Regions from separate parts of the Homo sapiens genome. Here all the other regions are linked to region 2. Evidence: fine-mapped expression QTL. A gene starts in region 2. Each other region holds a variant in brackets. All regions are shown on one strand. Distances are between the middles of the regions.

What was found.
Region 1: its variant is fine-mapped to the expression of STYXL1 in lung (GTEx, PIP 0.97).
Region 3: its variant is fine-mapped to the expression of STYXL1 in whole blood (TOPMed, PIP above 0.99).
Region 4: its variant is fine-mapped to the expression of STYXL1 in whole blood (TOPMed, PIP above 0.99).
Region 5: its variant is fine-mapped to the expression of STYXL1 in macrophages (Nedelec 2016, PIP 0.95).

Annotation. Positions count from the first base shown.
Region 1 is chr7:76,098,170-76,103,270 of GRCh38, forward strand. It overlaps the pseudogene GTF2IP7. Among named protein-coding and RNA genes, the nearest start is that of MDH2, 53 kb to the left of the region's middle. The variant T/G (reference allele first, on the strand shown) is at 2,732.
Region 2 is chr7:76,045,087-76,050,172 of GRCh38, forward strand. STYXL1 (serine/threonine/tyrosine interacting like 1) reads right to left here and starts at 2,914. Exons shown (of 9, transcript NM_001317785.2): 1 at 2,576-2,914. MDH2 (malate dehydrogenase 2) reads left to right here and starts at 3,020. Exons shown (of 9, transcript NM_005918.4): 1 at 3,020-3,140. The coding sequence starts at 3,075. RefSeq lists enhancers at 2,387-3,169, 2,615-2,704, 2,815-2,894, 3,170-3,951 and a silencer at 3,145-3,304.
Region 3 is chr7:75,982,296-75,987,395 of GRCh38, forward strand. It overlaps POR (cytochrome p450 oxidoreductase), which reads left to right. Exons shown (of 16, transcript NM_001395413.1): 8 at 1-27; 9 at 1,225-1,341; 10 at 1,443-1,561; 11 at 2,482-2,663; 12 at 2,763-2,912; 13 at 3,284-3,554; 14 at 3,628-3,773; 15 at 3,864-3,946; 16 at 4,042-4,560. The coding sequence ends at 4,186. It overlaps TMEM120A (transmembrane protein 120A), which reads right to left. Exons shown (of 12, transcript NM_031925.3): 11 at 5,065-5,100; 12 at 4,536-4,990. The coding sequence ends at 4,877. Among named protein-coding and RNA genes, the nearest start is that of TMEM120A, 9.7 kb to the right of the region's middle. RefSeq lists an enhancer at 474-1,673. The variant C/T (reference allele first, on the strand shown) is at 2,675.
Region 4 is chr7:76,222,466-76,227,566 of GRCh38, forward strand. The region is part of intron 1 of SRRM3 (serine/arginine repetitive matrix 3); the gene reads left to right. Among named protein-coding and RNA genes, the nearest start is that of SRRM3, 23 kb to the left of the region's middle. RefSeq lists enhancers at 325-825, 2,164-2,668 and a silencer at 3,013-3,213. The variant G/T (reference allele first, on the strand shown) is at 1,940.
Region 5 is chr7:76,088,483-76,093,583 of GRCh38, forward strand. It overlaps the pseudogene GTF2IP7. Among named protein-coding and RNA genes, the nearest start is that of MDH2, 43 kb to the left of the region's middle. The variant CTT/C (reference allele first, on the strand shown) is at 1,948.

The DNA of each region.
Region 1 (5,101 bases), 53 kb after region 2:
TTCCAAAAGGAGAAAAGTAAAGGTTTGAATGGATTTTTAGTTCTCGGCATTTTTGAACAGAAATAGTCAGGTATTAAGTTGCTCAAAGATGCCCACAAGCTTTCATAGGAGAAACATCTAATTCATAACCAAGAGTTTATGTTATTAAGTAAGCTTTCCTTTAACAGGATGAATGAATGAAGAGTTTAAATACTCTAATCCCCATTTAGTCATCTGGTATACTCTCTGTATACTCTCAGTCATCTGGTATACTCTGTCATCTGGTATACTCTCTGTGAGGTATACTCTTAAGTCATCTGGTATCCTCTCTTTGAGTATGCCAGATTATTAAATGGAAATTACTGCACCACTAAACACCAGTACTGCAAACCCTTATTTAAAAAATCGACACCTAGGACATAAAAAAAAATGATCCTAGGCTGGGCGTGGCGGCTCACGCCTGTAATCCTAGCACTTTGGGAGGCCAAGGTAGGCAGACTGCCTAAGCTCAGGAGTTTGAGACCAGCTTGGGCAACATGGTGAAACCCCATCTCTACTAAAATACAAAAAATTAGCCAGATGTGGTGGTGTGCACCTGGAGTCCCAGCTACTCGGAAGGCTGAGGCAGGAGAACTGCTTGAACCTGGGATGCTGAGGCTGCAGTGAGCAGAGATCATGCCACTGCACTCCAGCCTGGGTGCCAGAGCGAGACTTTCATCTCCAAATAAAAAAGAATGATCCTAATGCGGTTATTTCCTTTTGCATTTATGAGGAGATGGAAGAAATACCCATATTTGATGGTTGTTTGGGAACTGTCTTTGGTATTGTAGGAAGTATTTTAATACTGTGAACATGAAAAGATGAGAACCCTGCAGACCCCGTGGGCATGGAGAGAAGGAAGTACATTAGAGGATGTTGTAGGAAATACTTTCATTCCAGGCACTGCTTTTTAAACCACCCCTCAACTTTCTTTCCTTAAAAGAACAGAAAAAACAAGACAAAAGATGAAACATTCCATGTGACCCTCTGCACCCTTATTTGTTGTAATAAAGGAAAAGCATTTTAGGGATTTTCTTGAGTGCAGTTTATGATGTGATCCATGTTATTTATTTCCTGTTAATAATTTTCAAAATTTCAATTAAAGACATTCAGAAATTTAGCTTTATCACAGGCAGCTGTTCACAGGTAAAACTAGTTTGGTTACCTTCATCTGTATAAACATGTAGCTAGTGAATTGACATAACTATTAAACTGGAGAATCAACAGAAACATGCCAAGGACTGGCCCTTACCTTCCACAGTGACCTCAATTTCAGGAACCTTTTCATTACTCTCAGGGCTTCATGGTCTTTTTAGAAACTGCGAAGCTATAAAATAAAGCACAGAATTACTTTAGTATATTGTAGAAAAAAATACAGAAGGAAATGCTTTATAAGAGCGGAGTATTAAAATTCATTCAGTTTGGCTCTTTTCAAAGAAACCTGCAGAATTAAACTTGTAGTGTAATCCTCCACAGGGGACTCAACAAAGCCATGGAAACATGAATGAAGTGGGATTGCAAATGTGACACTTCCAACAAAATTTTTTTTAAAGAAAAAGAGGTCCATTAAATAAAATACCTTAAAAAGCCAAGAAATTAACTGCAAGTCCCACAAAGAGAATGGCCAATGATTCTGTGTGATTTAAGGAATGCTGATAAAGAATGTCTTAATGTAGTGAAATATAATACAAAACACAGGTAATCTCTTACCTTTAGTGTTTATTTTATTAGCAACTCCAGGAGGCAAGTAGGAAATAACCAGTTCAGGTCTAGAAAGAAAACCAAGAAATGTTACAGCAGCCAGTACAATGGTGGCCTCACAGCTAGTAAAACGGTTGTGATATGACCAGGGTTTTTTCCTAAAGGTGTTCACAGAGTCATCCTGTAATGTCACAATAATTCCTATCATTGTAGATGAAAACCCTGACTTTTCCTTCCCATGACTGGCAAGTAATTGTATGAAAAGTAAATTACTTCTTTCATGAAAAAGAAAATTAACACTAGTGTACTTTCTTCAGCCACCAAAATTCTGCAGAAACGCAGATATAATTAAAAAAAAACCTCCATCATCAGGCCGGGCACGGTGGCTCATACCTGCAGTCCCCATACTTTGGGAGGCTGAGGTGGGTGGGTCACCTGAGGTCAGGAGTTTGAGACCAGCCTGACCAACTTGGTGAAACACCGTCTCTACGAAAAATACAAAAATTAGCCGGGCATGGTGGTGCATGCCTGTAATCCCAGCTACTTGGGAGGCTGAGGCAGGAGAATCACTTGAACCTGGGAGGTGGAGGTTGCAGTGAGTCGAGATCGTGCCATTGCACTGCAGCCTGGGTAACAAGAGTGAAACTCTGTCTCAGAAAAAGGAAAAGAAACTCAATCATCAATATTTACTTGCTAATAAGATTGACCCAGGAATAACAGAGCAGATAAAACCCAGCAGATTAAACTTCATTCAAGTACTTAGGCATACTGCAAGCCACCACAGTGTGTCTGAACATCGGGGAGGCAGTGGTCACTATTCTTGCACTGATGAAGATGACTGAGTATGGGATGGGGAATGGCAGGGGCAATGGAGAGTGCCAGGACTGCAGCTCAGAGCCAGGCTTTTCCATCAAGGACTTACAGACACACCTGTCACTTCTAGCTAGAAAAACATTTTAGTAGAAATGTCATTTTATTGTTTTAATTCCAGAAATGACTACAGTGGCAAATA[T/G]AACTTACTTTTTTATTGTTGTTGTTGTTGTTGTTGTTGAGGCAGAGTCTCACTCTGTCACCCAGGCTGGAGTGCAGTGTTGTGATCTCGGCTCACTGCAGCCTCTGCCTCCCAGGTTCAAGTGATTCTCCTGCTTCAGCCTCCCAAGTAGCTGGGATCACAGGTGCCCGCCACCATGCCCGGCTAATTTTTTGTATTTTTAGTGGATACGGGGTTTTGCCATGTTTGCCAGGCTGGTCTCGAACGCCGGACCTCAGGTGATCTGCCCACCTCAGCCTCATAAAGTGCTGAGATTACAGACGTGAGCCACTACGCCTGGCCTAAAACTTACTTTTTACCAACAAATTTGATTTTATTACTCCCATGGACGATCCTTTCAAGTCATGGAATTCCAAACCAGGAGGGCTTCGAAAGGGAATCCTGTCTGGCAAACCTTCTACGTACAGGAACTTGGGATTTGATTCAAACACAGGATATGGTTCTTTTACTGCCTCAGTGAGTCCAAGAACTTAAGCTGAAAGTGCAAGAGAACATAATTTGTGGAAAATAAAATCTGACACGGACATTCTTTTATTTGTATCTGCATTCTCAAGTACATTATGGACAAGTTCCCTACAATCAAGCAATATTTACTTCATATTGAAGGCATTTTGCTTAGGATATTGGCCAAATCTGAAGAACAAGCTTAAAAAATAAGTACTTTTGAGAGGAACACTTTAACCCTTTCACTCAAAAGGAGAGTTATGTTATTAGCCAAAATGACCTCCAGAGTATAGCTGGGACTACAGGCACCCGCCACCATGCCTGGCTAATTTTTTGTATTTTTAGTATACTAGAGACGGGGCTTCACCGTGTTAGCCAGGATGGTCTCGACCTCCTGACCTCGTGATCCGCCCGCCTCAGCCTCCCAAAGTGCTGGGATTACAAGAATGAGCCACCGCGCCCCGCCCACATTTTAGAAAATGAATTCTAAGACACAGAGAGTTCAACTACCTTTCCAAAGATGACACAGCTAATTACACAGCAGACCAGGTGGCCTGACCCCAGGACTTTTGCCCTTGATCTCTACACTACCATGTTGAGCACAGCAGTAAATATTTCATACAGTTTTATCCAGATTTTTCCTGTTGGTTGTGGTAAACCACGTTTTGTTGTTTGGAGACAAAGTGTTGCTCTGTTGCCCAGGTTGCTGGTGTGCAGCGACACAAACATGGCTCACTGCAGCCTCAACCTCCTGGGCTCAGGCAATCCATTTCAGCTTCCCAAAGTGCTGGGATTACAGGAATGAGCCATCATGCCTGGCCTCACACTATATTTTAATGCCTTTTTTGAAAATGGAAACTTTTACCAATGACTCACTTCATTCAAACTAATGATAAGGAAATGATGCTATTCTCTTTTGTTTTGTTTTTGCATTTTTTTTTCTTTTTTGAGACAAGGTCTTGCTCTGTTGCCCAGGCTGGAGTAGGTAGTGCAATCATGGCAGCCTCAACCTCCCAGACTCAAGCAATCCTGCCCCCAGGATTCCCAAGTAGCTGAGACTACACGTGCATGCTACCACGTTTGGCCAATTTTTGTTGTAGACACAGAGTTTCACCATGTTGCCCAGGCTGGTCTCAAACTCCTGGGCTCAGCTATCCTCTCCCCGCAGCCTCCCAAAGTGTTGGGATTACAGGCATAAGCCACTGTACCTGGTTGATGCTGTCCTTTTTAAATGCATTTTTCCTTTTTTTTTTTTTTTTTTGAGACGGAGTCTTACTCTTTCTCCCAGGCTGGAGAGCACTGGTGCAATCTCGGCTCACTGCAGCCTGGTCTTGAACTCCTGACCTCAGATGATCCACCCGCCTCGGCGGCACACAGTGATTTTGCTCATTTTAGATATTACAACTTTTTAATTAAAAAAAATTTTTTTTCTTTTTTTTGAGCTGCAGTGCAGTGGCATTATCTCGGCTCACTGCAACCTCTGCCTCCCGGGTTCAAGCGATTCTCCTGCCTCAGCCTCTTGAGTAGCTGGGACTACAGGCGCATGCCACCATGCCCAGCTAATTTTTGTTATTTTTAGTAGAGACAGAGTTTCACCATGTTGGCCAGGATGGTCTCAATTTCTTGACCTCGTGATCCACCTGCCTCAGCCTCCCAAAGTGCTAGATTACAAGCATGAGCCACTGCGCCTAGCCAAAAAAAAAATTTTTTTTGAGACAAAGTCTAACTCTGTCATGCAGGCTGGAGTACAGTGGCAGAGTCACAGCTCACCGCAGCCTCGACTTCCTGGACTCAGGTGATTCTCCCACCACAGTCTCCCAAGTATCTGGGACTACAGGTGCACGCCACCACACCTGGCTAATTTTTTTGTATTTTGTAGAGAAGGAG
Region 2 (5,086 bases):
TCCTTTATTTTTCTCCTCTCCTTTGTATAACCCGACTTCCCTCTTTATGTATTTTCCACACCTCTTTCTTTCACTCCTCAAACCCAGATGAGCACAGACTGTTACCCATTCTTCCCATGAGACTTCTCCCACACTGGCCCTACCCACTCCATTTCTATGGCCACCACCGTAATTCAGACCTTTGTCATCCATAAAATAGATTCCTAAACAATCTCCCTGAATAGATTCCTAAACAATCTCCATTTTTTTTTTCCTGGGAATTCTTAGCATACAAGGTCAGTCTAATCTTCCTCAAACACAGTTCTGGCAGTGTCACAAAAGCCTGATTGGCCAGGTGCAGTGGCTCACGCCTATAATCCCAGCACTTTGAGAGGCTGACTCGGGCAGATCACTTGAGGTTAGGAGTTCTAGACCAGCCTGGCCAACATGACAAATCCCTGTCTCTGCTAAAAATACAAAAATTAGCCAGGTGTGGTGGTGCACACCTGTAATCCCAGCTACTTGGGAGGCTGAGGCAGGAGAACTGCGTGAACCCGGAGGTGGAGGTTGCAGTGAGCCGAGATCGCGCCACTGCACTGCAGCCTGGGCAACAGCGTGAGGCTCCATCTCAAATAAATAAACAACCTTTGATAAACACTTGCTTCCCAAGAAATGAAATACAAACTTCTCAGCTAACATTCATGGGACCGGCACAATCTAGTTTTTCCCAACCTGCTGTTTCCAGCTGTACCTAAAACCACTCAACTCTCCACAAATTCACTGAGGCCCTTTCAGCCCAGTCGCATGTTGGACAAAAAAAACAGAAGAAAGACTTAGTACCTGGCAAGACTTAATACCTGGCTCTGAGGTGCTCTCAGTTACAAGACAGAGGAGTAAATAATTACCAGAAGATGCAGTCAGTGATAAGATAAACAAAGGACACTGCTTGCCCTAATGTCCCCACTCCAAAATAAATGATCTATTCACTGTCCCCTGAATACTGGCCTATGCTTATTTTTTCCCGCTAGGATTTTATTTGGCCTTTTTTCTCCTCCTTTCCTGTCTAAACATTTCCCATTGTTAAATGCTCAGGCCCTAGTGCCCCTCCTTTGAGAATTCTGATTCCAAGGCAAGGGATCTTTCCCTCCTCTGGAGTTGAATGTTCCATTGAGAAACACCTACTCTTCCAGCATGTCTCAGCTTATCTGCTGTGTGTGTGTGTGTGTGTGTGTGTGTGTGTGTGTGTGTGTGTGTGTGTGTGTGTGTGTGTGTGTGCGCGCGCGCGCGCGCGCGCTTTTGAGCCGGAGTTTAGCTCTTATCACCCAGGATGGAGTACAATGGCACAATCTTGGCTCACAGCAACCTCCACCTCCTGGGTTCAAGGGATTCTCCTGCCTCAGCCTCCTGAGTAGCTGGGACTACAGGCACACGCCACCATGCCCAGCCAATTTTTGTATATTTAGTAGAGATGGGGTTTCGCCACATTAGCCAGTCTGGTCTCAAACTCCTGACCTCAGGTGATCTGCCCGCCTTGACCTCCCAAAGTGCTGGGATTACAGGCATAAGCCACCACACCCGGCTTTTTTTTTTTTTTTTTTTGAGACAGAGTCTTTCTCCGTCGCCCAAGCTGGAGTACAGTGGGGTTATCTCGGCTCACTGCAACCTCCCTCCACCTCCCGGGTTCAAGCGATTCTCCTGCCTCAGCCTCCGGAGTAGTTGGGGCTACAGGTGTACACCACCACGCTGGGCTAATTTTTGTATTTTTAGTAGAGATGGGGTTTCACCATGTTAGCCAGGCTGGTCATGAACTCCTGGCCTCAAGTGATCGGCCCGCCTCAGCCTCCCAGAGTGCTGGGATTACAGGCATGAGCCACCTTGCCTGGGGGTGTTGTTTAATTTTAAAAATATGTATCAGGCCGGGCGCGGTGGCTCACGCCTGTAATCTCAGCACTTTGGGAGGCCGAGGCGGGTGGATCACGAGGTCAGGAGTTCGAGACCAGCCTGACCAACGTGGTGAAACCCCGTCTCTACTAAAAAAAAAATACAAAAAATTAGCCAGGTGTAGTGGTGCGCTAATCCCAGCTACTCAGGAGAATGAGGCAGGAGAACCACTTGAACCTGACAGGCAGAGGTTGCAGTGAGCCAAGATCGCGCCACTGCACTCCAGCCTGGGCTAGAGAGACTCCGTCTCAAAAAAATAAATAAATTCATACATTTAAGTAATAAACTCATTGTGAGCAAGGAATTCTACTCGACTTTCTGTCTGCGTAAACTCTACAAATCCACTTGGCCTCAGCCACAGTGTCTTTATTCGTAAAGCAGAAACAGTGGGACCGTCAGAGCACTGCCGGGCAGGCGAGAGAAGACAGGAACTGTATGACCACGGAAGTTGTTGTCCCTACAACCTATTTGCTCATCTGGAACACAGAATAGTGGTCCTCTAAAGCTTGCAGGGCTGGAGGTCGCCATTATCAGCAGTGGTGTCACTAAACCTGAACCCAAGGGTCTCTGCAACTTGGGAAACGACGGCCCGGATCTGAGGAGATGGCCCCTTCCTCCCACCCCGCCTAAGGACTCTCAGCCTCCCTGACCCTACCTTTCCGGAGCTCAGAGTCCCCTCTGGCCTCCAAGGGCAGAAGGAATGGGTTTGGCTGAGGTCGGGGGCTCGGGTCTGGGACGCGCTCCACCTCCCCGGCTGCGCGACTATGGCCAGGCTCCCTGTCGGAGCCTCTGCCTGGGGCCCCACCTGGAAAAATGGCTCCTCTAAGGCGCTTCCAGCCTAAAGCCCGTCCTCTTCCACCTCTTGGGTGCAGACTGGCCCTCCCACTCCGACCGCAGGTCCCCCACCGGCCACACAGACGGCTACGCTAGAACCCAGCCAAACACCGGGGTTGCCAGGATGGTCCCACAGCTTTCCTTTCCGACTCCCGGAAGTGGCCGTGATCTCACGAGATCCCGGAGGCGAGCGCGACCGGAAGTCCGGTCACTCTCGCGAGGCCCCAGAGAGCAGGCGCTGGGCAGTGTGGAGGTCGTTGGAGTCACTTCCCCGTCACCAGCTCCTGTGCCTGCCAGTCGGTGCCCCTCCCGCTCCAGCCATGCTCTCCGCCCTCGCCCGGCCTGCCAGCGCTGCTCTCCGCCGCAGCTTCAGCACCTCGGCCCAGGTAGGCCAGACGAGGGGCGGCCTGCAGGCGGAGGCCCCCCGGCCCGGGCCACGTGCGTCCCCGGTTCGCGGGCAGCTCTGACCCTCTCCAGGCCAGCCTGGACCGCAGGGATGCCCGGCACTGGCTGGAGACTGTGGCGCCCGGGGCAGGCCCTGACACTGGCCTGGAGGTGCGGGGGAGAAAGCCGGGGAAAAGGGGGCGAGGTAGTCCCGCTCCAGGGCCGGTCCATTTGTCAGGGTTCCCCCAGGTCTCCCAGATTTCCCAGAGGACCTGCTCTTGGCTTGCACGCCTTCAAGGTTGGGAAACCAGGGCTCTGCATCTGAAAGTAAACTTACGTTTTTTTCTGCAGCGTTCCATTGCTTTGACGTAGCTAATCTCCTTGCAGCATCCGTGTGAGTTGTGCGTGAATAAAAGAAATCGTATACTTCCTAATTCCATAGTATGGACAAACCGAGGCTAGAGAACTGGGCCAGGGTTACAGTCATTTGGCCAGAGGATTAGAATTCAGCGCTTCTGACCTGAAGACGGCTTCCTCTTAACCTTTTTGGAGGATCTCTCCTGCTGTGGGCGGACTGAGCCTGCCGCCAGGTGTCTTAACAGTGCTTGACTTGGCCCGCGACCACTTAAGCCTAGGAGCCTAGGCTATTTTTAGCCATCTTCTAGAATGGTGGTTCTTAAACTCTGCAGTGTGTCAGAATCACCAGAAAGCTAATAAAAAACAGACGTCTGGGTTCATTGAAGAAGCTTAAGACTGCGGGGGGGGGGGGGGGGGTCCGCATTTTTACCAGGTGAATCTAATTAAACCTAATTTTGAGAACCCAGGAGGTGCTCGCATTGCCTTTTAATTACGACGCCCAAGAGGGAGGTAATTTTAAAGGGGAATCCAAATTTATCATCGAAGTTCTCGAGTTTCCTGTACATCCAGTTCATTTGAAAAATAAATACAAATGCTCCTGGATTGATGGCTACTTCCCATACCCATCGCAAGTTGGTAATATCCTAAGTCAAAAGGCGAGTTTAACTTTGTGTATTTTCAACTTGCAATGGGTTCCCACAGGCAACCCCATTGTAAGTTGAATGTACCAAATGCTTTTGCGCTGCGGTGAAGTGGGGGCCCAGCTGTATACAGATAAGTACATTAAGTACCTGTGCTTGCCAACAACTATGCTGGGTGCTGCAGGGGATACCAAGATAAGTGAGAAGTGACACTTGATATGGGACAGGAATGAGTAAACTTAGGACAGGTGGAAGCGATGAAGGTCTTAGGGAATGAGTAAACTTAGGACAGGTGGAGGCGATGAAGGTCTTAGGGAATGAGTAAACAGGACAGGAGGGATGAGGTGTGGGGGAGGGGCAGCCAACCAAAGAGAGGACAGGGGTGTCCAGGGAGAGGTTGAGTTTTGGTAGGACCTTCAGATATCCGACATATTTATTGAGCTAGGTACTGGAAATACAGCGGTGAACAAAACACAGAAGTCCCTGCTCTCACGGAAATTACTAGATATTTTACTTATTGCCCCACTCATTATAAAGTATCTTAAAATAGTGATGAACATGCAAGAAAAATGGGGATTGTAGGGTGCTTGTGTTAGGGAAGAGGGTACCAATTTTATTTACTTTTTTTGATGCAGTGCCTCGCCCTGTCGACAGGCTGGAGTGCAGTGGCGTGATCTCGGTTCACTGCAGCCTCCACCTCCCAGGTTGGAGCGATTCTCCTGCCTCAGCCTCCCGAATAGCTGGGACTACAGGCGCGCACCACCGTGCCCAGCTAATTTTTGTGTTTTTAGTAGAGATGGGGTTTCACCATGTTGGCCAGGATGGACCTGACAGAGTCCCACTCTGTTGCCCAGGATGGAGTGCAGTGGCGCCATCTTGGCTCACTGCAACCAACTCTTGGGCTCAAGCTATCCTCCTGCCTCATCCTCCCGAGTAGGTGGGAATCACAG
Region 3 (5,100 bases), 63 kb before region 2:
GCTGAAGAGCTACGAGAACCAGAAGCCGTGAGTGGAGGGAGCGTGGCTTGGGGCAGACGGCTCTATGGCCACTGGTGCACCCCAGGCTCAGTCTGCCGTGTATCCCCATATCCCCACAGGGCCCTTCTCACCAGACCCCGTGCCCCGAGTGGGTGTGAGTGTCCACGACCTGTCCACGGCCCGGCCCCAGGAGACTGGCACTCGCCCAGTTTGTACTGAGCTCACTTAGCCACCTTACTCTGCACTGCCCAGGGCAGCGGGGCACATCCCACTTCTCGACTAGGACAGTGCATTGGCCTCTGTGGCTAGGATCCTCTTTGGCAGAAGGGCTCATTTTCTTAGAATCTATCTCCATAGATAGACTTGGGGGAGAAACCTGGCGTTCCTCTCTGTGCCCTTGATGGCCCCTGGTTGCTGCCCAGATTCCTGCCCGAGCCACCCAGGGAAGTCCTCGTGCCACTGCATCCAAGACCAGCTGCCCTGCTTTCTGTAGGCCTGCCCCAGCCTGGCTGGAGCGAGAAGCCCTGCATGTCGGTGGCTTTCCGGAGTGCAAGTTTCTCTCTTGTCCACGGTGTAGTCCAGGACGTGTGGGGGTGGGGGAGCTGTGCTCCTCATTTGGGGACCAGCCACCTTCCAGCCTGTGGCACCGTCAGCTTGGGCCTCACAGTTCTTTTAGGGGCCAGCCTCAGTTTCCACATCTGTAAACAGACACTGATGACCCAGCTCTGCCCATGTGGTGGGACTATAGAGAGAACTGCATTAGGGCTGGGCGAGGTGGCTCACAGCTCTAATCCCAGCACTCTGGGAGGCCGAGGTGGGTGAATCACCTGAGGTCAGGAGTTCAAGACCAGCCTGGCCAACATGGTGAAACCCCGTCTCTAGTAAAAATATAAAAGTTAACCAGGCATGGTGGCGAATGCCTGTAATTCCAGCTGCTCAGGAGGCTGAGGCAGGAGAATTGCTTGAACCTGGGAGGCAGAGGTTGCAGTGAGCCGAGATCGCGCCGCTGCACTCCAGCCTGGGTGGCAGAGCGAAACTCTGTCTCAAAAAAAAAAAAGAGAACTGCATTGGACCAGGCTGGGAGAGCCCTTGATGTAACCGGTGAGATTTCCTCATGGAGATCTCTGAGATTCCCTGTGCTTTGTGCAACCAGAAGCGTCCTTGGAGACGGAGACTCAGATCAAAGCCCCGGCCGCTCACTGTGCTTCTCTCCTCCCCACCCAGCCCCTTTGATGCCAAGAATCCGTTCCTGGCTGCAGTCACCACCAACCGGAAGCTGAACCAGGGAACCGAGCGCCACCTCATGCACCTGGAATTGGACATCTCGGACTCCAAAATCAGGTACCAGCTGCCACTGTCACCCCCTGAACCCTCACTCTGGGCCTCCTGACCTGGGGCAGGGCCAGCCTTCCGCCCCTCCCGAGCCTCACATCTCCCTCCAGGTATGAATCTGGGGACCACGTGGCTGTGTACCCAGCCAACGACTCTGCTCTCGTCAACCAGCTGGGCAAAATCCTGGGTGCCGACCTGGACGTCGTCATGTCCCTGAACAACCTGGATGGTGAGTGCCACAGTCAGGGCGCCCTGCCGGGCTCAGGCAGCCGCGGGATTGGGCCTGTAGGAAGGCCCTGGGTTGAGCTTCTGCTTAGGCCTGAAGCCCCGGTGCCTGGGAGGCCCTTGCACCGAGACTCCACGGTTACAGGATCCCAAGCAAACGGGAGGCGGGGTGGCCCTAGGGGTCTAGCCCTCTCTGTCGGGGTTCCCCCTACCCCGTCACTGTCATAGTCCTTTAAGGGAGTGAGGTGCTGAGGCCTGGTGGCAGAGGCAGCCCTGGCTCCCCCATGGCCACTGTGTCCTGCTGGGAAGGAGGGCCTGGCTCCACGACCCACCTCTGCCGGCCTGGGGCTGCCCCCACCTCCTCACTGAAGTCAGGAGTCAGCAGCCCTCCCAGGCCCCCAAGGGTGCACAGTGGTGCCGAGTGGCAGTAGCCATTACGCGGGGCTGCCTGGGCCTGGTGGGGCTGCCCAGCCTGAGCCTCCCGCTGTGAAGCCCTCGGACCCCACTGGTCACCAACCTGGGCCGAGCCCACCTCGCCCCACCCCTGCTTGCCGGTCCTCAGCTGCCATGCCAGGGCTGCCCTTACTGTCGGCTTCCACAGCCCGCCTGTAGGGAAGCCTGGGCGGGGCTGTGTCAGACCGTGTAGTGTGCGGTGAAAGCACAGCGGGTGCGTTAGTGTGCAGGGGCTCCCCCGCACCTCCCCTAGCAGGGTCCTGCCTCTGATGAGGACTTCCTGTCTGGTTGGAGGCCCCAGACTTGGCCCCAGGGCCAGGGAGGCATCAGAGAGCATAGGCCTTGTTTCCAGCACCAGCTGGGGCACCTGTTGCCGCAGAGCTGGCCCAAGGTGTCACCCCCTCCTGCCGCAGCCACCCATCCCCAGGAGGCGGCCGCCTACCCCAAGTCCTGCCTGTCTCTTCCCTGCAGAGGAGTCCAACAAGAAGCACCCATTCCCGTGCCCTACGTCCTACCGCACGGCCCTCACCTACTACCTGGACATCACCAACCCGCCGCGTACCAACGTGCTGTACGAGCTGGCGCAGTACGCCTCGGAGCCCTCGGAGCAGGAGCTGCTGCGCAAGATGGCCTCCTCCTCCGGCGAGGGCAAGGTGCGCCCCCT[C/T]AGCCCCCGCAACCTCCGCCCCGTCACCCCGCCGTTTTCCGAGCTCCGTGGGCCCCAATCAGCCCCATCTCACCCCCGTGTCTCTTAGGAGCTGTACCTGAGCTGGGTGGTGGAGGCCCGGAGGCACATCCTGGCCATCCTGCAGGACTGCCCGTCCCTGCGGCCCCCCATCGACCACCTGTGTGAGCTGCTGCCGCGCCTGCAGGCCCGCTACTACTCCATCGCCTCATCCTCCAAGGTGAGGGCCGGCACTGCCCTGCCAGCCACACGCTGGAGGCCCAGCCCTGCTCACAGCAGGCAGAGTGCAAGGCGGCACAGGAGCTCCGAGATCTGAGCCCTGAGCTCCAGTTCCAGCCCCAGCGCAGCTCCAAATGCCTCCCCAGGCTGTGGACTCAGTCGGGCTGGCTTGTGAGATTCTCAGCATCTGTCCAGCCCCGGTCCCCAGAACCAGTCCGGGAAGCCGCTGGGGAGGGGGCCTCTGAGGTTTGGGTGCCAGGTGGGCTGGAAGAGGCCCTGGGTGAGTGGGGCTGGCCTGCAGAACGGGACTTGGGGCCGGGGCTGGGCAAGGGCCTCGGTGTGGCGGTGGAGCTCACACGGCCCTCCCCACAGGTCCACCCCAACTCTGTGCACATCTGTGCGGTGGTTGTGGAGTACGAGACCAAGGCTGGCCGCATCAACAAGGGCGTGGCCACCAACTGGCTGCGGGCCAAGGAGCCTGCCGGGGAGAACGGCGGCCGTGCGCTGGTGCCCATGTTCGTGCGCAAGTCCCAGTTCCGCCTGCCCTTCAAGGCCACCACGCCTGTCATCATGGTGGGCCCCGGCACCGGGGTGGCACCCTTCATAGGCTTCATCCAGGAGCGGGCCTGGCTGCGACAGCAGGGTGAGTGGGGTCCCATGGGGGAGAGGGGGTGACGACTGGGAGCCCCGCGCTCACCCCGGCCCCTGCCACGCAGGCAAGGAGGTGGGGGAGACGCTGCTGTACTACGGCTGCCGCCGCTCGGATGAGGACTACCTGTACCGGGAGGAGCTGGCGCAGTTCCACAGGGACGGTGCGCTCACCCAGCTCAACGTGGCCTTCTCCCGGGAGCAGTCCCACAAGGTGAGACGGGCGGGCACCCACGAAGGTGGGCATGAGGCTGGCAGGGCCACAGCCACAGTGCCCCCCTCACAGCACCACCCTTGGCCCCAGGTCTACGTCCAGCACCTGCTAAAGCAAGACCGAGAGCACCTGTGGAAGTTGATCGAAGGCGGTGCCCACATCTACGTCTGTGGGTGAGTGAGTGGGGTCACTGGAATAGGGGGCAGGGAGGACAAGGCCCTGCCTGCCACAGTTGGCCCAGCCCCCAGCACCCCCTCTTCCTGCCCAGGGATGCACGGAACATGGCCAGGGATGTGCAGAACACCTTCTACGACATCGTGGCTGAGCTCGGGGCCATGGAGCACGCGCAGGCGGTGGACTACATCAAGAAACTGATGACCAAGGGCCGCTACTCCCTGGACGTGTGGAGCTAGGGGCCTGCCTGCCCCACCCACCCCACAGACTCCGGCCTGTAATCAGCTCTCCTGGCTCCCTCCCGTAGTCTCCTGGGTGTGTTTGGCTTGGCCTTGGCATGGGCGCAGGCCCAGTGACAAAGACTCCTCTGGGCCTGGGGTGCATCCTCCTCAGCCCCCAGGCCAGGTGAGGTCCACCGGCCCCTGGCAGCACAGCCCAGGGCCTGCATGGGGGCACCGGGCTCCATGCCTCTGGAGGCCTCTGGCCCTCGGTGGCTGCACAGAAGGGCTCTTTCTCTCTGCTGAGCTGGGCCCAGCCCCTCCACGTGATTTCCAGTGAGTGTAAATAATTTTAAATAACCTCTGGCCCTTGGAATAAAGTTCTGTTTTCTGTATTTGCCTGGTATTGTGTGAGTAGATCTGGGACCTCCACCTGCATCAACTTAACTAACTCAGACCCCAGGAACCCATGTGGTGGGGCCACCCAGCCCTCCCCTCCCCCAGGAGAACACACACGCTCAGGCCACCTCTGGGCCTCTCTTTATTGAGGGCACTGGGCCCAGGTCTTCCTTCAGGGCCCACAGCGCCCATAAAACCCAAGGGAGAATAGAAGAGACCCCCTGATACACGCACACTCGAGGGGCGCCTCCCATCCCCTCCCACAACACACAGGACAGAAGCCCCTCTGGGCCGGCAGGGGAAGGCCCAGCCTCAATCCTTCTTGCTCCCGTGCCGCTGACTGTGAAACTTGTGGTGCACAACCCTCAGGGTGGTGAAGAAATTGCCGAGGAAAAGGAGGAGGAAGGGAAAGCCGCACATAAGCACCTGCCGGAGGAATAGGGTGAGGGCTGGACATGGGCCTGGCCCCCCATCCATCCTGTCCAGGGACCCCGGCTCACCTGCCACTCCTTGCACTGAGGGTCCTGGGCCAGGTT
Region 4 (5,101 bases), 180 kb after region 2:
CCTCCCCAGCTCAATACCCTTCACTGGCTCCCTATTGCCTGCAGGGTGTGGTCCTAGGTCCTCAGCCTGAGTCTGAAGGCCCTGGGGACCTGGCCCTCCCTCCCCTCCTGGCTTAGTGGGCTCAGCAAGACAAGCCCATGTTTTGTTTTGTTTTTTTAATTTTTTTAATTTTTTGAGATGGAGTCTCCCTCTGTCTCTCAGGCTGGAGTGCAGTGGCGTGATCTTGACTCACTGAAACCTCTGCCTCCTGGGTTCAAGCAATCCTCCTGCCTCAGCCTCCCAAGTAGCTGGGATTACAGGCACCCGCCACCATGCCTGGCTAATTTTTGTATTTTTAGTGGAGACAGGCCAGGCTGACCAGGCTGGTCTCGAACTCCTGACCTCCAATGATTCTCCTGGCTCAGCCTCCCAAAGTGCTGGAATTACAGGATTGAGCCACCGCGCCCAGCTTCAAGTCCATGCTTTTCCCTCTTTCCTCTCCATGCCTTCTTCCTGCTCACCCCCACACCCTGACCAGGACATCCTTCTCCTCCTCCTTTGTCCCGCCAACTCCTACTTATGCTTCAAGATCTCTCCTCCAGGGAGACCTCCTAGCTATGCTCCTCTCCTGACGCACCCCAGCTGTTAGATGTCTCTGCCATGCATCCATCATCCCCAGCATGATAAGCACCAGTGCTTCTCCTTCTGCATTTCTCTCGTGTCCTCTGGTGAACCCCAGAGTAGCCACTCACAAATAGCTGTGACCTGAATGAATGACCCAACCCTGAAGTTGATGGGGTGTCTCTTGGTCCTCTGGTCCTTACCCCCCCAGCCCCACGCTCTTGGGCAGTGAGCACAGGGGAAGCTTTCAATATAAAGTGTTCAAGGCTGGAGGTCTGCAGAAGGGTCCTTACACAGGGAAGGGAAGGGTCAGCAGGAGAGTGCTCCAGGGAATATGTCCCTGTCATGGCTGCACCTGGCTTCAATGCCAGGATTTGGAGTGGGGACACACCTAGATTCCTTGGACATGATGCAGATGGCTTTTCTTTTCCAGCTTGATAAAGTATCTTGACAAACGATTGTTGCACACACTTATTTTTAACAAGACCCAGAATGAGTTTCACAACTTAAGGACCTGGTTTCATGGGTATTTATCAGTTCTGTCTCGTTTCTGACAGTTGGAAAGAATCTTTTTCCTCAGGAGGCACATCCTTGCCCACCTGCTGTCACCACACTGGGCTTTTTCTCTGGAAGGTCTCATCCTGCGTTTGCAGCCACCACCTTCACAGGAATGCAGTTTCCTGGATCATAAATTCCATTCCACTGTAGCCCTCTTAGCCAAGGGTCCCTGGATCTTAACATGCCCTTGGCTTTTGCCTTCCCTTCCCTTCCCTTCCCTTCCCTTCCCTTCCCTTCCCTTCCCTTCCCTTCCCTTCCCTTCCCTTCCCTCCCCACCCCTTCCCTCCCCTCCCCCAACTTGCCCCCCTCCCCCTCTCCCTTCTCTTCCCTTCCCTCTTTTTTTTTTGACAGAGCATCCCCTCCCCTCCCCCCAATTCCCCCTCCCCTGCCCCCACTTCCCCTCTCCCCTGCCCCCACTTCCCCTCTCTCCCTCTCCCTTCTCTTCCCTTCCCTCTTTTTTTTTTTTTTTTTTTTTGAGACAGAGTCTTGGTCTGTCCCCCAGGATGGAGTGCAGTGACACGATCACAGCTCACTGCAAGCTCCGCTCCTGGGTTCAAGCGATTCCCCTGCCACAGCCTCCTGAGTAGCTGGGAGTACAGGCGCACACTGCCAGTCCTGGCTAATTTTTTGTATTTTAGTAGAGACCGGGTTTCACCATGTTGCCCAGGCTGGTCTCAAACTCCTGAGCTCAGGCAATCTGCCCACCTTGGCCTCCCAAAATGCTAGGATTACAGGCATGAGCCACCGCGCCCGGCCAAAGACACATCTTTCAAAGGCACAT[G/T]TCTAACATCATTCTCTTCATGAAACCTTCCCTGACCATCCTAGGCAAAGGTAGAGCCTCCCTGGTCTCTTTTTTGCTCCTGCAGGACTGGGTGGGTGGGTGGGAGAATGGCATCAGAATCTCTTCATAACAAGCCTGTTACCGCAAGAAAGGATGAATGAATGATCCCACTAAGCTACAAGCTACAAGACTAGGGAATATTGTCTCCGTCGAGGTATTGCTCCTCACAAGAGGGTATTAGCTACGAGGGTCTGCCCACAGACCCTGACCCAAATGATGAATAAAACGTACACTGATACACAGAGATTCTGTTTTGCCAGTCCTGCTGAGTGACCGCCTACACACCAAGAGAGGTTTGTCACTGTGGCCGCCCCGATCAGCTAGGGAGACTCACATTTATTCATTAAGATTAGTTAACAAAAGCTTGAGTCAGCGCCATTAGAGGTAATTGACATTGAGGACTTCCCGAGTAAAAAGCACACATCAAAGGCTCGTCTTGAGACCACATGAGTAAACAAGTTAACTAGATAACTTCCCCACATCCCGTTATTTACTACTCTAATCTATTTAACTGAAGGTAATGGGACCAGCCCACCTTCGCCCCGGTCTATTACCGAAGTCATGTGAAAACCCTCAGGCCTTCCGAAAGGGTTTTGTGGCTATCATAACTAATATTTTTTCCACCAGCCTGACCGAATCCCAACACTCCATTTTACAGATGAGGAAACTGAGGCTCGGAGAAGTTTAATGACTTTTCCTGATCACCCAGGCAGAAGTAGTGGAGCCAGAATTTAAGCTAAAGTCTTCTGACTCCAAGTCCTTGTCCTGGTCTAACACTCTTTTTCCTGGCCCCAGTAGAAGACAGCAGAAAGATCTTAGAAGTAAGAAGGTGGTTAAATTGTGTGACCACAGACGAAGTGCTCAAGTGCTTACTTGAAGCTGTGGGAATCTGTACCTTTGAGCGTGTGGAGGCTCTGAGTCCTGACATTACCTCTGGGGAGGCATGCCTCTGGCTGGCAAGGCCAGGAAAAAAAAGCCCCTAGAGGAACGGTGCTGCCCCCCTCCCCGCCCCCCCCGCCCCTTTCCCCGGCAAAAGAGGCTTCTCAGCCCCGGCAGCAAATGGGGCCCCCTGAACTGGTGATGGGGGTGCTGTCCGTGGTGCTGGAGGACTGCGACGCTGCCAGAGACAAGGGGAGCAGGGAGGAGTTTGCTCACTCCTGTAATCCCAGTGCTCTGGGAAGCCAAGGCGGGGGATCACTTGAGGCCAAGAGTTTGAGACCAGCCTGGGCAACAACGTGAGACCCTGTCTCTACAATAATAATAATAATAATTAATCTCCAGTGCCTTTTACGAGACATTCATTGCATACTAGGTACTGTGAGGGCATTTCCCATGCATTAGTCCTTTACAACAAACCTATGAGGAAGATGCTATTATTAAATAGTTTCATTTTACAGGCAAGGAAACTGAGACCCAGAGAGTTGAAGTCACGTGCCCTAGGTCTCTCAGCTTATGAATTCCCAAAGATCACTCTCCTGTCTCCCTCTCAAATCAGGGGTCCCCAGGGCAGGGCTGGGCCTCTTCCCAGACTCATCTGTGGTCCACTTCTCACTACAGCCCATTCCCTCTCCCCCAGACCTGACCAGGTCACTACGATCTGAGCATCTTCTCCCTCTGAGCCCCAGGGTGAGTGCTGACCTCATTAGCTAAGAGGCCTCTGTGCCTGTCAGCAGCTGACTTTCCGAAACAGGCTGGACCCTGCAGTACAGATGAGCTGTTTCACCTTCAATTAATCACTTGCAGGTAGCAGCATCCAGTTTGTGGCCCACTGTGTCCACACCCAGGCTTGCTCAGGAAACCCAGGCTTGGGCTTGTGGGAGGGAGGCAACTCCAGGGACCCAGCCAGGAGGCTGGGAAATCAGGCCTCTAGGCTTTTAACCACTTCCTGGCTTGTAGAAGAAGGAGTGTGCCCCTTTGGCAAGCATTAAACTAGGGCTTCATGACTTAATCTACACATGGGTTTGGCTGGCTCCAGCATCTGGGCTTGCCCTTGGGAGCTGACCCAGTGCTGGGGACAGCCTCAGTTGAACTCTAAGGGTGGCCGGTGGGGCCCCGGCTCCTGGCTGTATCAGCAGAAAGGAAGTGGGCTGAAGGTCTGGTGTTATTTATTTATTTATTTATTTATTTATTTATTTTATTTTTTGAGATGGAGTTTTGCTCTTGTTCCTCAGGCTGGAGTACAACGGTGTGATCTCAGCTCACTGCAACCTCCGCCTCCTGAGTTCAAGCAATTCTTCTGCCTCAGCCTCCCAAGTAGCTGGGATTACAGGCATGTGCCACCACACCCAGCTCATTTTTGTATTTTTAGTAGAGACAGGATTTCACCATGTTGGTCAAGCTGGTCTCAAACTCCTGGCCTCAGGTGATCCACCTGCTTCGGCCTCCCAAAGTGCTGAGATTACAGGCATAAGCCACCACACCCAGCCTGGTGCCACACACTTAGAGTTAGTATTACCCAGACTTCCAGAGTAGGAAAGGACCCTTGGGGTCTTTGAGTCATTGTTCAGTGGGAGAAACAAGGGTGCAGAGAGGGGAAGGGACTTGTTCATGGTCTCACAGCCAATCAGTGGTAGGGTAAAGACTTCCCATGTGCTGCTCTCAGCCAATCAGTGGTAGGGTAAAGACTTCCCATGTGCTGCTCTCAGCCAATCAGTGGTAGGGTAAAGACTTCCCATGTGCTGCTCTCAGCCAATCAGTGGTAGGGTAAAGACTTCCCATGTGCTGCTCTCAGCCAATCAGTGGTAGGGTAAAGACTTCCCATGTGCTGCTCTGCCTCCAAAGAAGTACAGTGTCAATGCCCCCAAAGACCAGAACAAGTTAGAGTTAGGGTTCAGATTATAGCTCTAGACTCCATATCTGCCTGCTTGCCCCTGCAAACCCCTCACCCTCAAGCACCTCCAATTTGTTCTCCGTGTTCCCCATCACAATAAATGGCTGCACCATCCACCTGGTCACCCAGGCCAGAGACCCGGTGTCATCTAAGCTGCCTCCCCCATCCCACATCCAGTCAATTACAAACCCTGCCAGATTGGCCCATTTATTTCTTGAATCCTGGTTGTCCTCACTGGCTCTGGCAGCCCTGCCTCCTGCTCCCTCCCAGCC
Region 5 (5,101 bases), 43 kb after region 2:
GCGGGGGCACATTCCTATAGTCCCAGCTACTTTGGAGGCTGAAGTGGGAGGATCAAAGTGGAAGCTGCAGAAGTAGAAGCTGCAGTGAGCTCTGATCCCACTGCACTCCAGCCTGGGTGACAGAGTGAGAAAACATACACACACACACACACACACACACACACCCCTCATCTCAGTCTGCCCAGCCTTCACACACACACACACACTCATCTCAGTCTGCCCAGCCTTCACACACACACACACACACACACACACACACCTCATCTCAGTCTGCCCAGCCTTGACTAGTGAAAAAGGTCTTCTGGTTACAGAAGACGTATGCTCTTTTTTAGGACCGGGATGGACCAGCAAGCTTGTTCACAGCCTTTCCCTCATCCTCTGCTTAGTTTTCCAAGAAACTTCAGGTGGAAAGGGAGTCCCTGGGGAAAAGACCTAACTCATCAGGTTACCAAAGGAGAAATTTGCATCCTTTGTCAATTAATAAATGGAACACCTGCCTTAAAAACCAGGGAGTTCTGCTAGGGTGAATCACTCCCTACAACCCTGACCTATGCAGGGAATGTAAAAACCTGGAGTTTGGGGACCTATAATATTGAAGGCCACATTGCAGATGTGGAGACCTTACCAAAGTACAGCCTTTCCACAAAGCACTACCGAACACCAGCTGGCTGTCTCCATGGGACACCGCTGTATCTCTGGCTCTCGTTTCCCCCAGAGATGCTCTATTCCAGCCTTCTCTTACATTTTGTATCCTGCACAGTTCCTGGCATAAGGACTTACAACATATCAGGCTGCTATGTTAATGGTGATCTACTGCAGATCCAACTTGAGATTCTGGCAGGGCGCTTTGTGTTTGAGAAATTAAAGGGGAGAGAATGGACCCAGCCTGCTGGAATATAAAAAATTTAAAGAAGAAAAAAATATTAAAATAAAAATTTCTCCTAAAGAGCACTCAAAAGCACACTCCCACCAATGCTAGATCTATTTACCTCTCTCTTGCTTTTTTTTTTCTGAGATAGGGTCTCACTCTGTCACTCAGACTGGAGTGCAGTGGCAAGATCACTGCTTACTGCAGCTTTCAACTCCTGGGGTCAAGCTATCCTCCCACTTCAGCCTCCTGAGTAGCTGGGATTACAGGTGAATGCCACCATGCCTGGCTAATTTTTTAATTTTTTGTAGAGACGGGGTCTCACTATGTGGCCCAGACTGGTCTTGAACTCCTGGGTCAAACTAATCCTCCCGCCTTCGCCTCCGAAAGTGCTAGGATTATAGGCTTTAGCCACTGTGCCCAGTCTATTTATCTTTCTATAACTCATATATTAAATCTTCCTCCTTAAATCACCTCCTACCCACCCATCTGCAGGGATAGCAAACACAGGTCTCAGCAGGTCAGGCAACCTACAGGAGGGAATGAGGCCAGAGTAATGTGGGAGACCAGGGGGAACTGTAGCAAACTGCAAGGTATTCACTTCAATAGTTCTTCAACACTGTGATGGTCAAACCAAACACAGAAACAGGAAGCCCAGTTCAGTCGCCAGCAGCCAATGTGGGATATTTGATCTACATGCTACAGGGCAAACTGCTTACGATAAATGACCTGGTCTCCACCAACCTGCTCTTCAAGTCCAGCCGCTCCTGCCCAACTCCCTACACTCTACTGACACGACCCACATTCACAGTACTCTCCTGAAACTTTGCTTGTTCACTCTTTTTTTATTTTCCCAATGAATATTTCTTTTTCTTTTTTTTACTTTTTTTGAGACAGAGTCCCCTTCTGTTACACAGGCTGAAGTACAGGCGGATGATTATGGCTCACTGCAGCTTCGTTATGGCTCACTGCAGCTTCCGTCACCTGGGCTCAAGTGATCCTCCCACCTTAGCCTCCCAAGTAGCGGGGATTACAGTCATGTAACACCACACCCAGCTAAATTTATTATTTTTTCTTGT[CTT/C]TTTTTTTTTTTTTTTTTTTTTTCAGACGGAGTCTCGCTCTGTTGCCCAGACTGGAGTGCAGTGGCATGATCTCAGCTCACTGCAACCTCTGCCTCCTGGGTTCAAGCAATTCTCTTTCCTCAGCCTCCCGAGTAGCTGGGATTACAGGTGCATGCCACCATGCCTGACTAATTTTTATATTTTTAGTAGAGATGGGGTTTTACCATGTTCACTAGGCTGGTCTTGAACTCCTGACCTCAGATGATCTGCCCACGTCGGCCTCCCAAAGTGCTGGGATTACAAGTGTGAGCCACCGTGCCTGGCCAGTTTATTATTTTTTCTAGAGACAGGGTCTCACTACGTTGCCCAGGCTGGCCTTGAACTCCTGGGCACAAGCAATCCTCTGGCCCCCACCTTCCAAAAAGCTGGGATTACAGGCTTGCGCCAACACATCAGGCCCTAACAAACACTTCTTGAGCTCCTACTATATACCAGGCACTATAATAGGTGCCCAGGAAACAGCGGTGAACAAGGTATAACAGTTTCTGCCCTTGGCCGGGCGTGGTGGCTCATGCCTGTAATCCCAGCACTTTGGGAAGCCGAGGCCGGTGAATCACCTGAAGTCAGGAGTTCGAGACCAGCCTGACGAACATGGTGAAACCCTGTCTCTATTAAAAGTATAAAAATTAGCGGGGCATGGTTGTGCATGTCTGTAATCCCAGCTACAGCTACTCAGGAGGCTGAGGCAGGACAATCGCTTGAACCCAGGAGGCGGAGGTTGTAATGAGCTGAGGTTGCGGCGCTGCACTCCAGCCTGGGCAATGAGAGCGAAACTCCGTATCAAAAAAAAAAAAAAAGTTTCTGCCCTCGCAGAGCTTATAGGGTAGCAGGAAATTGATACAGTTTGAACGTTTGTCTCCTCCAAATCACATATTGAAATTAAATCCCTAATGTTGGAGGTGGTGCCTGGTGGGAGGTGTGTGAGTCGTGGGGGCAGATCCCTCATGAATGGCTTGGTGCCTTCCCCAAGGTAATGAATGAGTTCTCTCTCTACTAGTTCATGTGAGAGCTGATTGTTTAAAGAGAGTGGCATCTCCTCCCCTCTCCCTTGCTCCCTCTTCTCAACAAGTGACATGACGGCTCCTCCTTCACCTTCCGCCATGAGAGGAAGCCTCCTGAGGTCTTCACCAGCAGATGCTGGTACTACGCTTTTTTTTTTTTCTGAGACAGGGTCTCACTCTGACACTCAGGCTAGAGAGCAGTGGTGTAATTATGGCTCACTGCAACCCTGACATCCTGGGCTAAACAGGTCTTTTTACCTTAGCCTTTCAAGTAGCTGAAACCACAGGAATGCATCAGTGCACCACCATACCTGGCTATTTTTTTTTTATTTTTAGCAGAGACAAGATCTTACCATGTTTCCCAGGCTGGTTTCAAACTTCTGGGCTCAAGCAATCCTCCTGCTTCAGCGTCCCAAAGTGCCGGGATTACAGGTGTGGGCCACTGCTCCCAGCCTGGCACCATGCTACTTGTATAGTCTGCAGAACTGTGAGCCAAATAAACTGTTTTTCTTTATAAACTACCCAGCCTGAGGTGTTTCCTTATAGCAATGCAAAATGGACTAATCTAGGAATCACAGGCCAACACTTACCAGACTGTGATGAGCACATGACAGAAGTACAAAATGGGACTGAAACGTTCTCCAGGGGCTTCTTGTTGCATCAGAGAGAGTGGGGTGAGACATCTTGGCTGAGGCTAAAAATGAGCAAAGATGAGAGTGAAAAAGTGATGATGGAGGTAGGAAGAGGGTTTCCTGAAGGACCAGTAAAGTCCCCCAAGGAAACTAACATTCCTTGTGGCTGGAGGGTAGGGATTTGGGGAGGGTGGTGCAGGATAAAACTGGGAAGGTGAGCGGAGACCAGCTCTTACCAGGCCCTGTGGCCAAATTAGTTTGGACTTCGTCTTAAAGGCAATGGGCAGTCACCAGCAGGTTTTAATCAAGAACTATTTTGACCCAAATTTGCCTTTTAGGAGAATTCCTCTGGCTTCAGTGAACAGGCCGAAGTGAGCAAGCCTAATAGTCAGAAAGACAATTGGAGGCCCTCACAATAAACCAGTGTAAAAGAGAAAAGGGCTGGGCATGGTGGCTCCTGCCTGTAATCTCAAAACTTTAGAAGTCCAAGGTGGGTGGATGGCTTGAGCCCAGGAGTTTGAGACCAGCCAGAACAATGTGATGAAACGATGAAACCACATCTCTACAAAACACAAAAATTAGCTGGGCATGGTGGCTCGTACCTGTGGTCCCAGCTACCCCAGAGGCTGAGGCGGAAGGATAGCTTGAGCCTGAGAGGTTGAGACTGCAGTGAGCCAAGATCAAACCACTGTGCTCCAGCCTGGGCAACACAGGGAGACTGCCTCAAAAAAAAAAAAAAAAAAGAAAGAAAAAAAGAAAAAGAAAAAGATCCCATTCTTCACTTATTAGTGCCCTAACATTCTCATGAGAACCTTGGTGACAGTGAATTCAACTGTCATTGTAATTCAGCAACCAACACATTTAAGTTTGTGTTTGATTTCCAATAATATTAGCCCTGTGGATACAAGAAATAAGGAATTGTGTTTGGGCTATCATGGAAGCTCTCTGGATCTTAGACCATGACTTACGCTGAGAGGTAAAGACTTGAGCTTTTTGTTTTTCTCTCTGTGTTGAGTGCAGCGGTCCCCAATTTTTGGGGGAGCAGGGACCAGTTTTGTGGAAGACAGTTTTTCCATAGACTGGGGGCAGCAAAGGTCAGTTTTGGGATATATCAAGCACATTACGTTTATTGTGCACTTTATTTCTATTATTATTACATTGTAGCATATAACGAAATACTTATATAACTCACCATAATGTAGAATGACTGGGAGTCTTGACCTTCTTTTCCTGCAACTAGATGGTCCCATCTGGGGGTGATGGGAGATAGTGACAGATCATCAGGCATTAGATTCTCCTAAGGACAGAGCAAGATAGATCCCTTGCATGCACAGTTCACAATAGGGTTCGTGCTCACATGAGAATCTAATGCTGCCGCTGATCTGACAGGAGGCAGAGATCAGGTGGTAACGTGGGGAGCAGCTGTAAATACAGATGAAGCTTCGCTCGCCCACCCTCTACTCACCTCCTGCCATGTAG